2 separate regions of the Homo sapiens genome follow, and region 1 is linked to region 2. The links come from fine-mapping of genetic effects on gene expression. A gene starts in region 2. The other region holds a variant in brackets. All regions are shown on one strand. Distances are between the middles of the regions. Region 1 has its middle 85 kb from the start of EXOC5. Region 2 holds the start of NAA30 (N-alpha-acetyltransferase 30, NatC catalytic subunit).

Region 1 (5,377 bases), 210 kb after region 2:
CTCATTCCAAAGCCTATGTACTTGGCAATATTAAATAATCTACTGCCTTTTTCTATAGGAGGCAGTCAATACTTGAATGAATGAGTGGATGAATGCTTCCCCTCTATGAAAGAAGCTATGGTAAGTAAGAAGTTACAGTAAGCACCTACCACCAGGTGCACAGCAAGTGCTCAATAAATGGCAATGCTATTGGCTTTGTTATTTTATCATACGGTCTCCCTCAGAATGACCAATCCAAATACCATCATTGAAAATAAGACATGGTATTAGGGCTGGATTGAGATATGCAAGCACCAAGTGTGTTGAAAATCATGGTTCAACATTTGTTTAGTGAGGAGTGATCAATACTGGCAAGGATGTTTTGTCTTGCTTTGTTTTGTTTTGTTTTTATTTATTTATTTTTATTTTTTGAGACGCAGTCTTGCTCTGTCGCCCAGGCTAGAGCGCAGTGGTGCGATCTCGTCTCACTGCAAGCTCCGCCTCCCGGGTTCACACCATTCTCCTGCCTCAGCCTCCCGAGTAGCTGGGACTACAGGCGCCCGCCACCACGCCCGGCTAATTTTTTGATATTTTTAGTAGAGACGGGGTTTCACCGTGTTAGCCAGGATGGTCTCAGTCTCCTGACCTCGTGATCCACCCGCCTCGGCCTCCCAAAGTGCTGGGATTACAGGCGTGAGCCACCGCGCCCGGCCTGTTTTCTTTTCTTTTCCCTTCTCCATTTTAATCTCTTCTGAAAGGTGATCTACTTTAGTAGAAATGGAACCATGTTATATTTTGTCCTTTGTGTTAGGATGCATAGACAAAGAACTGAGTTCACTGACAATATATTTCCATGGTTTTTGTTTTTGTTTTGTTTTGGTTTGTTTGTTTGTTTGAGCATTTCTAATATATAAGTGCCACAGGTATTTGTCTGATTGAACCACCCTATAATCTGGCCTTGAATAAAGAATGATATTATGACAAGTGCCACAAAATGTCTCAAATGCCAGTGATCTACTTGGCTCAGAGATTCTTAGCCCTAGTTTTGAATCAGCTCATTTGGGGAATTTAAAAAATCTTCAGATACCCAGCATCCAATCTCAGAGTTTCTGATTAAGGAGAACTGGAGGGTTGTGGTTGACACATGTACTTTAAAGTAGCTCAGTCCTATGAATCGGGATGAGAAGACTGTGTCCAGAACTAAGGAGACAAAGTACATACAGGCCTCTTCTGTGTCTGGCATATAAATATAAATACAAACCTTCCTTACCTTGAAACCCCCTAATTAGGATGGCAGATAGAAAAAGACAGTAAAGATTTATTTCCAGCCTTGTCTGGGGGAGAATGGAATCTGACTGTGACTATGCAAATCATTTGCACAGACCTATTCAGTGGTTTCACAAATTTGGCTTTTTATTGGAATCACCTGTGGTAGTTTAAAAACGAATCCGCAAAAACCATAATCTGAGTTCATGGGCAACACATTTCTGTGGTATTTTTAGCATCCCTAAGATATTGATGCCACGGGCTCCCATCCCTGGTGATTCTGATCCAATTGATTTGGGGTGTGGCCCAGGTATCAGGACTCTTGAAAGCTCCCAGGTGATTCTAATGTGCAGAAGAGTTTAAGAACCACTGGTCTGTTTGAAGAGACTGCATCAGACATGGAATAACTGACTCTGTTTGGCAATTTCCTTTCAACGAAGGTATCCTCTTGGATTGCTCTTTCTGCCACTCTCGAAGCCTAACTCTCAGTAAGCAGACCTCTGTTTCAAAGGCAAGAAGAAGGGAGTGCAGTGAGTACAGCTAAAATGTAGGATTCTCTGGTTTCCTAGAAGTTCTAGATGGGACCTCTGGAAGATTTTGTGGAGGCACTTTTTTGATATGTACCTTTGCTCCATCCTTATTCTCACAAAGAGAGCTCCTGACTTTGTAAGCTAAGGTGTTAGGCTGGCCAAGAGAAGTAGTCCATTTGACAGTCAAAGATCTCAGTAAAACTGAGTACGGCAGGGTTATGATTTATGTGGTAGATTAGTATGCGCCAGCTCACGAGGGCCTGATCACCCTCTGGTGCAGTAATAAAACTCTGATTCAGAGCCTGCAAAACTGAGAACCAGACCTTGCTTTCTCAGTGATCCTAACAAATTGCCATCCTATGAGGCTTGTCAAGAAAAGGACAGCCATCCCAGGTCATCTTTTGTAAAGAATGACCTGGGAAGCATCTCCAAAGCATTTACTCTGCTAAATAAATCAGGGCACTTTGCTCCCTTAGCTGAATGCTGAAAGTTATAGACAGGGATTTGGTCAGACCTAAGAAGGAAAAAAACCTG[T/C]CATCATGGAGAGAAAAAAGAAATAACTGAAGGATCTGTTTGCCACCAACATGAACACCAGTCAAAGGATGGTGTGTCTGAAAGGGAAACCATGAGACAGAGTGATTCTAAACCAAATGCAGGTGTCTGAATGACCTTCTCATTGCTGAACCCATGAAGCTCACTAATTAAGATGACATCCACCTCTGCAGGGAGTAATTTCAACAAAGGAGTCTTCTCTTCTCTCTCTAACTCTTCCTCTTTTCTTCGTCGATCATGTAGCCTGCCTAAATGTCCCACTACTAAGGCTTGTTATGATATAAAATACAAATATTTTGGGAAAGAGTAATATAATAAGCCTTCTCATGAATGTATGTATAGTGATTTCCAACCCTGGCTACATGTTAGAATCACTTGGAGGAGAGGAGTTGTTTTTGTTTGTTTGTTTTTAAATACTGATGCTAGAGCTTCACTGTCAGAGATTCTGATTTAACTAGTTTAGGGTGGAGCCTGGACATTGTTTTGTTGTTGTTGTTTTAAGGTGATTTTTAATATGCAGCCAAAGTTAGGATCCATTGGTCTAGAGTGTGGAAAACATCGTATTCTTCCTGGAGGGCAGATTTTTATTGGGAAGGAAAGAAAACTGAGTCTTTAGCCAAAAGGAGGTAGGAAGAAGTACCTGGGATTTTTATAGGAGATGGGGAAAGTGGAGGTTAGGAAGAGAGGTAGTGCTGAAAATAAACTTTTATTTGTCAGTTTTGCCTAGGGCTGGCTCTGACTCAGGACATAATAGCGATAAGAAGCAAGGAGGAGAATCAGCTTATGAGAAAAGTGCATCTTCATAAATACATTTTTTTTTCTTTTTTGAGAGGGAGTCTCATTCTGTCGCCCAGGCTGGAGTGCAATGGTGCAATCTCGGCTCACTGCAACATCTGCCTCCTGGGTTCAAGTGATTCTCCTGCCTCAGCCTCCTGAATAGCTGGGATTACAGGCACCCACCACCATGCTCAGCTAATCTTTGTATTTTTGGTAGAGATGGGGTTTCACCAGGTTGGCCAGGCTGGTCTCAAACTCCTGACCTCAGGTGGTCCACCTGCCTCAGCCTCCCAAAGTGCTGGGATTACAGGACTGACCCCCTGCTCCAAGCCATGAATACATGTTTAAATCTGTCTCAATAAGAATTCTTTTAATTATTCTTTGAGTTTCCAACACTGGAAGCTGACCACCTTCAACTAAAGCAGTTTTAGTTCCTATAGCACTTGTTCTTCCTGGATAACTCTAAAATAAAAAAATTAGCAAGATGGAGAATTAAAATATGCCTCTGGGAGAGTGGTGAGTGTTCTGCTTAAGGATCTCTCAGGATAGTTTATGTAAGAACCTTTAAGTGTGCTCTCAGAGAAATAAGTCTCAATCTGTTATTGTGAAATGACTATGTAAACATCTGTCTGTTTTTTTTTTTTTAAAAAAAAAACATTCCAGTTATATCTTGTTTTTGTTTGCTTCTCTATCGTTTGCTGGCCAAACAGCTTGCCCCTTGCCCTGTTGTCTTGTTACTTTGCTTGGCATGAAGAATTTTAATGAGTTTTATTGGTTGCCCTCCTGACTTTTGTTCAGAACCATTTCTCAGGGCTGCTGTTGTACATCTGTTCCTCGGCCTCTGAGAGGCAGTGTGGCATCATTCATCGAGCTTGTGCGGCCTGGGTTTGAATCTCGGTTCTTTGACCTTGGGCAAACTTTATTGGATTTCCATTTCCTCATCTGTAAAATGGGAATGATACTAATACTACCACTCACAGAGTTGTAAGAATTGAATGAGAACACATATGAAAATTACTCTGTCAACCACAGCATGCTGTGCAAGGGATTTTTCTCCCCCTTCATTGGCCCATCCCATGGGGAAGAACTGTTAAAGTTCTTCAGAAGCACATGAAAAAGGCTAGACTATTTGGGGATATTTTTATGGCATCAGCTCCTGGTCTATGCAGCATTTCAGAACAGAATTACTGAGATCATCCTCTAGCCTGCCTGAGGTCACAGCTCATGGGTCATTGGCACCAGCCTCTGGGAACATCATCCACTGGATGCTCTGCCCCAGAATCTGGCATCAGATTTGTATGGGCTACTGGGTTTTGTTGATCTCACTTTAGGTAGGGTTCTAGATTAAGTCACTCTAGCTTGTGATAATCAGACAGTGAGCTGTGTAGATTTTGAGGATGTCGGACCAGAGTTTCCTCTTAGAATCAACATCTTAGCTGTAGTCTACTCATCTCTCAGCCCTTAAAGGACCCCATTCTTGATATATAACTCCCTGGGGATATGAGAGTCTACAAGGCATCAATCAAAAGCAAACTTCAAGCAAGAGCTTTATTGTTAGGATTTGCGGTTGTTCATCAATATTACGTGATGGAATCTGACATGTAAATACAATTCAGGAGGAAACAGGAGTTTATATTTTCCCATTCCAAGGCTTTCCTAGTGTTGATCTGAAACAGCAGTGATTCTCAAAGTATGATGCCCAGGCCAAGCAGTATCAGCATCAACATCAGCACCAACATCAAGAGAATGTGTTAGAAATGCAAATAAATCACTGGCCCCACCCCAGATCTCTTGAATTACAAACAATGAGGGTAAGGCTCAGCTATCTGTGTTCAGCAAACCGTCCAGGTGATGCTGATGCTTATTAAAGTTTGAGAAGCACTGATCTAGAAACTGTGGCCACCTGTGTTTTCTTTTGGTTCTTTAGAAGTAGGGATGATGACCTTCAGGGGGTTCTCTCAGGTACCTTCATTATAGTCACCCCCTTGGGGAATTAAGCTTTATTTGAAATATATTGGTTGCTGTCTACTATACTGATAAAAAGTTGTAAACTACTTGAATTTGCAAACTATGTCTTTTCTTAGAGTCTACCTCGATTCTTTTAATCCAGTGAATCCCGGGGCAAAACTTTCAGCCTGGTTGGTATTAGAGGGAGAGGAAGACAGTATTAGGAGGGTAAAATGAGGCATTGTCTGGAATTCTGTAGTTCACGAATGAATCCATTGAGGAGTGGGAAGATGATTGGGATGCCAGAGAAGAAGTAAGAAGCTGTG
Region 2 (5,377 bases):
ACATTTATAATAGTGCTATAAATCATTTTCTCATATTCATTGACACAGACATGTCTTAGAACTATTCTGATACAATGCTTAGAATACTGAAAGAGCAGTTTTCAAGAATATAAAGTAGTACCCACAGTTTTAACAAATGTACTGAATTGAAGTTTAAGCAAGTTAAGACAGAAAATAGAACTACCATTATCTACAATACCCAGGTTACATTTTCAAATTATCACCAAGCTAGAGAATCAAAAAGATAAGTATTGTCAAAATATCTTGCAGGGAATTACCAAGTGAAACTAAGCCAATGCTAAAACATTAAGTAATGGTGGCTTTTCCCTTCACATATTAAAAAATATTCCTTAAAAGGATGTCATCTTTCTGTAGTAAAATTCAACAGAAACAATATGCTTGTGAGCACATGATACAAAGCATACACCTGCAGTCAACGTTTAAGTTAAAGGGTTCATACAGACTGAAATGGGTCAATATTATTGTGAAGAAATTACTGGTACTGCCAATACTATGTTAATTTTTAAAAACCGTCCAAAAGTCTTTCACTTACGTGTAATATTATTGTCAATTATACTCTACACAAGCCAGTGTTACTAGTGTTTGGCCACATCTACAACCAGTTTCTTAAATTAAAAAAAAAAAAATCAGATCGGTAACAATTTCACACAAGTTTTCTACATTCCACAAAAGGGTATTTTGTTCAAGTTTCAGGAGTCTTTCAGCCACCAGAAGTGTTAGTAGCGCTTTCTGGAATGGAGTACCAGAAAGCAGGCTGGCTACAACTGTTAATTGTCCAGTTGAAGTAAAGAGAAACATCTCCATAATTACCGAAAATGCTTGTAAGATTTAATTCTCCAATATGACCACACCAAGTTTGCTGACATCCATGTTCACCACAACATGTTTATGCATACACTCTTCCCTGATTATGGTTGTAATCGAGAGACTAATAAGGCCTGTATCTGAACAGAACCATGTTCAAATTAAATGACTGTAAAGTGTTTGAGGATGCGGGCGGGTAATTAAAGACGGTTAAACACGATTATAATCTAATGTAAACAAGACACAAGACCCCCACCCCAGTGAAACACGCCACCATACAGGCTTGCTGCAGTTACACTAGTATCACGTTAACCCGAATCATGAAGTCTTACCTTCAAAACAATTTCATTAAATAACTAGGAATGTGTACAGCACTTGACATCATATAACGTACTATGATACGCAGCAGGAGATATCCACTGCCACATTCTGGGCCCTCACTCCCTGCCCCGCACAGTCTCGATCACTGCTGGGTTCACCCTCTTTTTATTCTATCCACTTACCAAGAAGCACAGCTGTGGCCAGTTGTGGATAAAATATCTATAGGTATAAATGGAGTAGGGTTCGGACAGATCTTTGGTGATCAGTCTCATGATATCGGGCATTTGTAGCTCGGATTCATATCGGACATATCGTATCGTCCGATCCTCCCCAGGCTCAACCTCCCTGCCCGAAGGGCTTCTTAAGCTGCAGTCGGCGGTCAGGGACGAAGACAGCAGCCGCACCTGCTCGTCTTCCTCCTCCTCCTCCTGCTCGGTGCCCTCGGCCAGTCCATTGCGGGCCGCCGCGGGATCGCTCGCCGCCGCTGCCTCCACCGGGCTGGGGACCGCAGTTCTTGCATTACTAGAGAGGGAGTGAGGGGGCCTCTCGCCCGAGTGTACCCCGGCTCCTTTTGTTGCAGTCGCTCTGGGGCCTCCGTCAGGGGTGGCTGTGGTCGCGGCCACCTCTGCTACGCTCAGGACCTTGCTCTTGAGGGAGGCGGCCGCCCGGAGGTGCCGCAGTTCGGGGCTAATCAATCCGTTGAGCTGCTGCTGCTCCTGCGGCGGCTGAGGGCAGCGGAGGCACGGATGCCCCTTGGCCGCCACCGTCGCCGACTCTCCGCCCGCCGGGCTCCTGCTGCCGCCGCCTTCGTGCTCTTCGTCGTCCTCCTCGTCCTCGCTGCAGCAGGCGAGGGCGGCCCCCGCCGGGAAGGGACAGCGGGGCTCGACCGCCGCCGGGGCCGGAGGTGCTGGTGGTGGGAGGAGGCTGCTAGGCCCAGGCGGTACCTCCGCCATCCTAGAAGCGACACAGACCGAGAGGGGAGGCCATGAAACCCGGCCGAGGAGCGCGGAGAACAGGGGGCGACGGATGGGGGGCGGCCGAGGTGGGGGGAACAAAGGCAGAAACCGTCCCTCACGGAGCTGCCCCCCAATTCCCCGCCACCCCCCCGCTCTTCAGCGCCGCCCAGCTGCTCAGCCGGCCACCGTCCCCGTCCGCCCGGGCCCACCCGCCAGCCCTGTCACTCGCGGCCCCTCCTCACGGCTCACCCCGCACGGGTCCCCGCCGCCGCTGCCGCCACTCCTCTTCCTCCGCCACCGCCGCCGCCTCCTTCGCAGCCGCGGCAGCCTCCACAGCCGCCAAGGTTCTCACTCAGCCGCCGTCGCCGTAAAGCGCCTCAGCTGTTAGGCCGGGTAAAGTTTCCTGGGCCTGGCTTTACGACACTTCCCTGCCTGCCGGCTGCCCGGGCCAAGAGAGAGGGGCGTGGAGGGAGGTGACCTGTGGAGGGGCGGGGACAAAGGTGTCTCCTGCGGGCTGCGGGGAAGGCCGCGTGCTAGTGGGTGGGGCTGTGGGGCCGGGAAGTTGCAGAGGGCTTTGGAGTCACAGGCTCCCAAACCCTCTTCCTCGGTTTGGGGGCGCCTCAACCTGCGGTGCTTGCCACGCGGGGCCGGGGAGGGATGGACCGGGCAGGCGCTCCCTGCTTAAAGTCTACCGCGCACTCCGAGCTGTAGCGAATCTCGCCAATTCGGGGCCTGTGGAACAAGCCGTTTACAAGTCACCTAAAAATGCCCTTTTAAAGCTGCACAGCGTTTAATGTTTGCCCTGACCAGGGGCAAGGAGGATGGGGGAGGAGCGATTAAAAATGGAGCAAATCAGAGAAGCCGACCGAAAAAGAAAGGAAGATTTGAGCTGTGAAAATATGGGGATGGCTGTCGAAACGTGGTGGTTTGCAGTGTGAATTAAGTTCAGCTGGCCCTTGCCACTTTGAGGCAAGGGAGTCAGCCCTCTTCCTCTCCCTCCTTACTCTGCTCCTCGCACCCAGTAAAATTGGAGGCAAAAGTGACTGACAGGTGTTGGGCAATTGCTAGCACACCTGGGGAAGGGTTAGAGAGAGGTGGTGAAAGAGAGTGACCAGGGCTAAGAAGCACACTCCTAAACTTGTGACACAAATAGGTTAGGAAGCACTGGTAAACAGGTGGCCTGATCCTCCCAGGGGATCTGCCTATCGAGTGCAAAGGGGATAGAACTTGAGCTTGTGGCTGGGCGCCTTCTGCTCTAGTCCACAATTGACTCCCGGCAGGTCTGAGCTGAGACAGGTAGTGTAACTCACCCGCTCACTGAACAAATTCGGTTTTGTTAAAAACCTGATTTATAGAGCTGGTCTGGTGTGCCGCAGATGGACGTTTTCAATATATAATTCTATGACGGAACACGTTTGCAACTTTTTGCCGTAATCTAAACTCTATGTATAAAGTATTTATTATGCTCGCAGATTCTGTGCCTCTGAAATCCAGACAGAGCACAACTGGGATGGCTTTTCTCTACTCCATTATGCGTAGAGCTTCAGTTGGAAGACTCTAAGGCTGAGGAGTAGAATTATTTGAAAACTTCACTTTCACCGCTGATGGTTGATGCAGGATAAAGGCTGGAGGCCTCAGTTCTAGTCCATGTAGACCTCTCCCGGTGGTCTTTTAGCATTGATTGGTTTGGGCTTTGTCACAGCCTGGTGGCTGGGTTCCACGGCAAGTATCGTGCGAGAAAGTCAATCAGAAGCATATTACCCATTATAACCTAGCCTTAGAAGTCATGTAGTCTCTAGCCAGGTGCGGTGCCTCACGCCTGTAATCCTGGCATTTTGGGAGGCCCAGGCGGGAGGATCTCTTGAGGCCAGGAGTTCGAGACCAGCCTGGCCAACACAGTGAAACCTCATCTCTGCCGAAAAATACAAAAATTAGCCGGGCGTGGTAGCTCATGCCTGTAGTCCCAGCTACTCAGGAGGCTGAGGAGAATCACTTGAACCCGGGAGGCGGAGGTTGCAGTAAGCCGAGATTGCGCCACTGCACTCCAGCCTGGGCAACACAGGGAGACTCCCTCTCATCAAAAAGAAACAAAAAACAAGTTATGTAGTGTCAGTTCTGCTGCATTGTATCTAGGCAGACACAAAATTATATCCAGTTTTGACAGGAGGGGAAATAGACTCTACTCTTGGTGGAGAGAGGCAAGGTTCTCAAAGAGCATATGGGACCAGAAATATTGCTGTGGCCATTTTCAGAATGTATAACTTGCTACAGATACATTGAAAACCTCCTAAACACCTTGATGTGTGGGGGATATAAATGAGATGTATAAGTACAGCGTGATCCCTTTTCTGTCTTTTAAAAAGCACAAAACAAAACCATGTTTCCAAATGTGCATACATTGTTTAAAGATACATGTTTTTCAAAGTTTCTAAGTGTAACCTGGGTAGTCAGCCAATGAAACAATGATCTGTTCAAATCATGGTGGAAAAACTGGCCCAAGAGGCACCAGATAATTCCATAAGAGATGTTTAAGGGTGAATTTTACTTAGAAAAATACCTCTCAGTAATTTACTTTTAAATGTAAGCCCTTCCTAAAAAGCATGTACCTTCACTGTAGTGAATGAATGGCAGCAGGCCTTCCTGTTCTTTCTGTGTTGCAACTTGGCATTGAGCTCTGTCACACTGAGGAGCTGACCAGATGTTGTCTCAAAGTGGTTTTCAGAAAGTCAAGAGTTGTAAGGACCTTCTTGAGGCCAGGGAGTAAATGTTAGTCACTTTGTATTCACATATCAAACACATAAAAGGGAAATTGTTAAGCTTTTTGACTGAAGTACACCAGTCTCTCATTCAGTAACCTAGAATGCTTATAATGACAAAGTAAATTCTGACCTCCTCAATAACTAGTGGGGTAATTCTAATGTCTCAGCCCCAGTGATTTTTCTTTATATCCCAGTATTAAAATTACAATGTTGGCCTTCTAAATCAGATGACATCTCTAAAAAAAATTGCCTTTATAACTTATGAAATCTTTTCTATTTGATTCATGTTTACTTGATAGGATGATAGCACTATTTTAGGCATAGAAATAGGATTAGTTCACTCTAATGCTTTAGACATATTTACTATTATGAGACTCTGAAAAAACAACTACCTCCATGAGCAATACTTCATAGGAAAGAATGGGCTCAGAGCAAGGTGAGTGTAGCAGTGATACTCTTCTGTGTGGTTAGTTGATATTTTCATTGTTTTGTAATATCCTATGAAGCAACAGCCAT

Evidence for each region. PIP is the estimated chance that this variant, and not a neighbour inherited with it, causes the effect.
Region 1: its variant is fine-mapped to the expression of NAA30 in whole blood (GTEx, PIP 0.97).

Annotation. Positions count from the first base shown.
Region 1 is chr14:57,181,566-57,186,942 of GRCh38, reverse strand. No RefSeq gene overlaps it. Among named protein-coding and RNA genes, the nearest start is that of EXOC5, 85 kb to the left of the region's middle. The variant T/C (reference allele first, on the strand shown) is at 2,310.
Region 2 is chr14:57,387,680-57,393,056 of GRCh38, reverse strand. NAA30 (N-alpha-acetyltransferase 30, NatC catalytic subunit) reads right to left here and starts at 2,471. Exons shown (of 5, transcript NM_001011713.3): 1 at 2,352-2,471; 2 at 1,329-2,100. The coding sequence starts at 2,099. RefSeq lists silencers at 1,944-2,093, 2,224-2,363 and an enhancer at 1,492-2,487.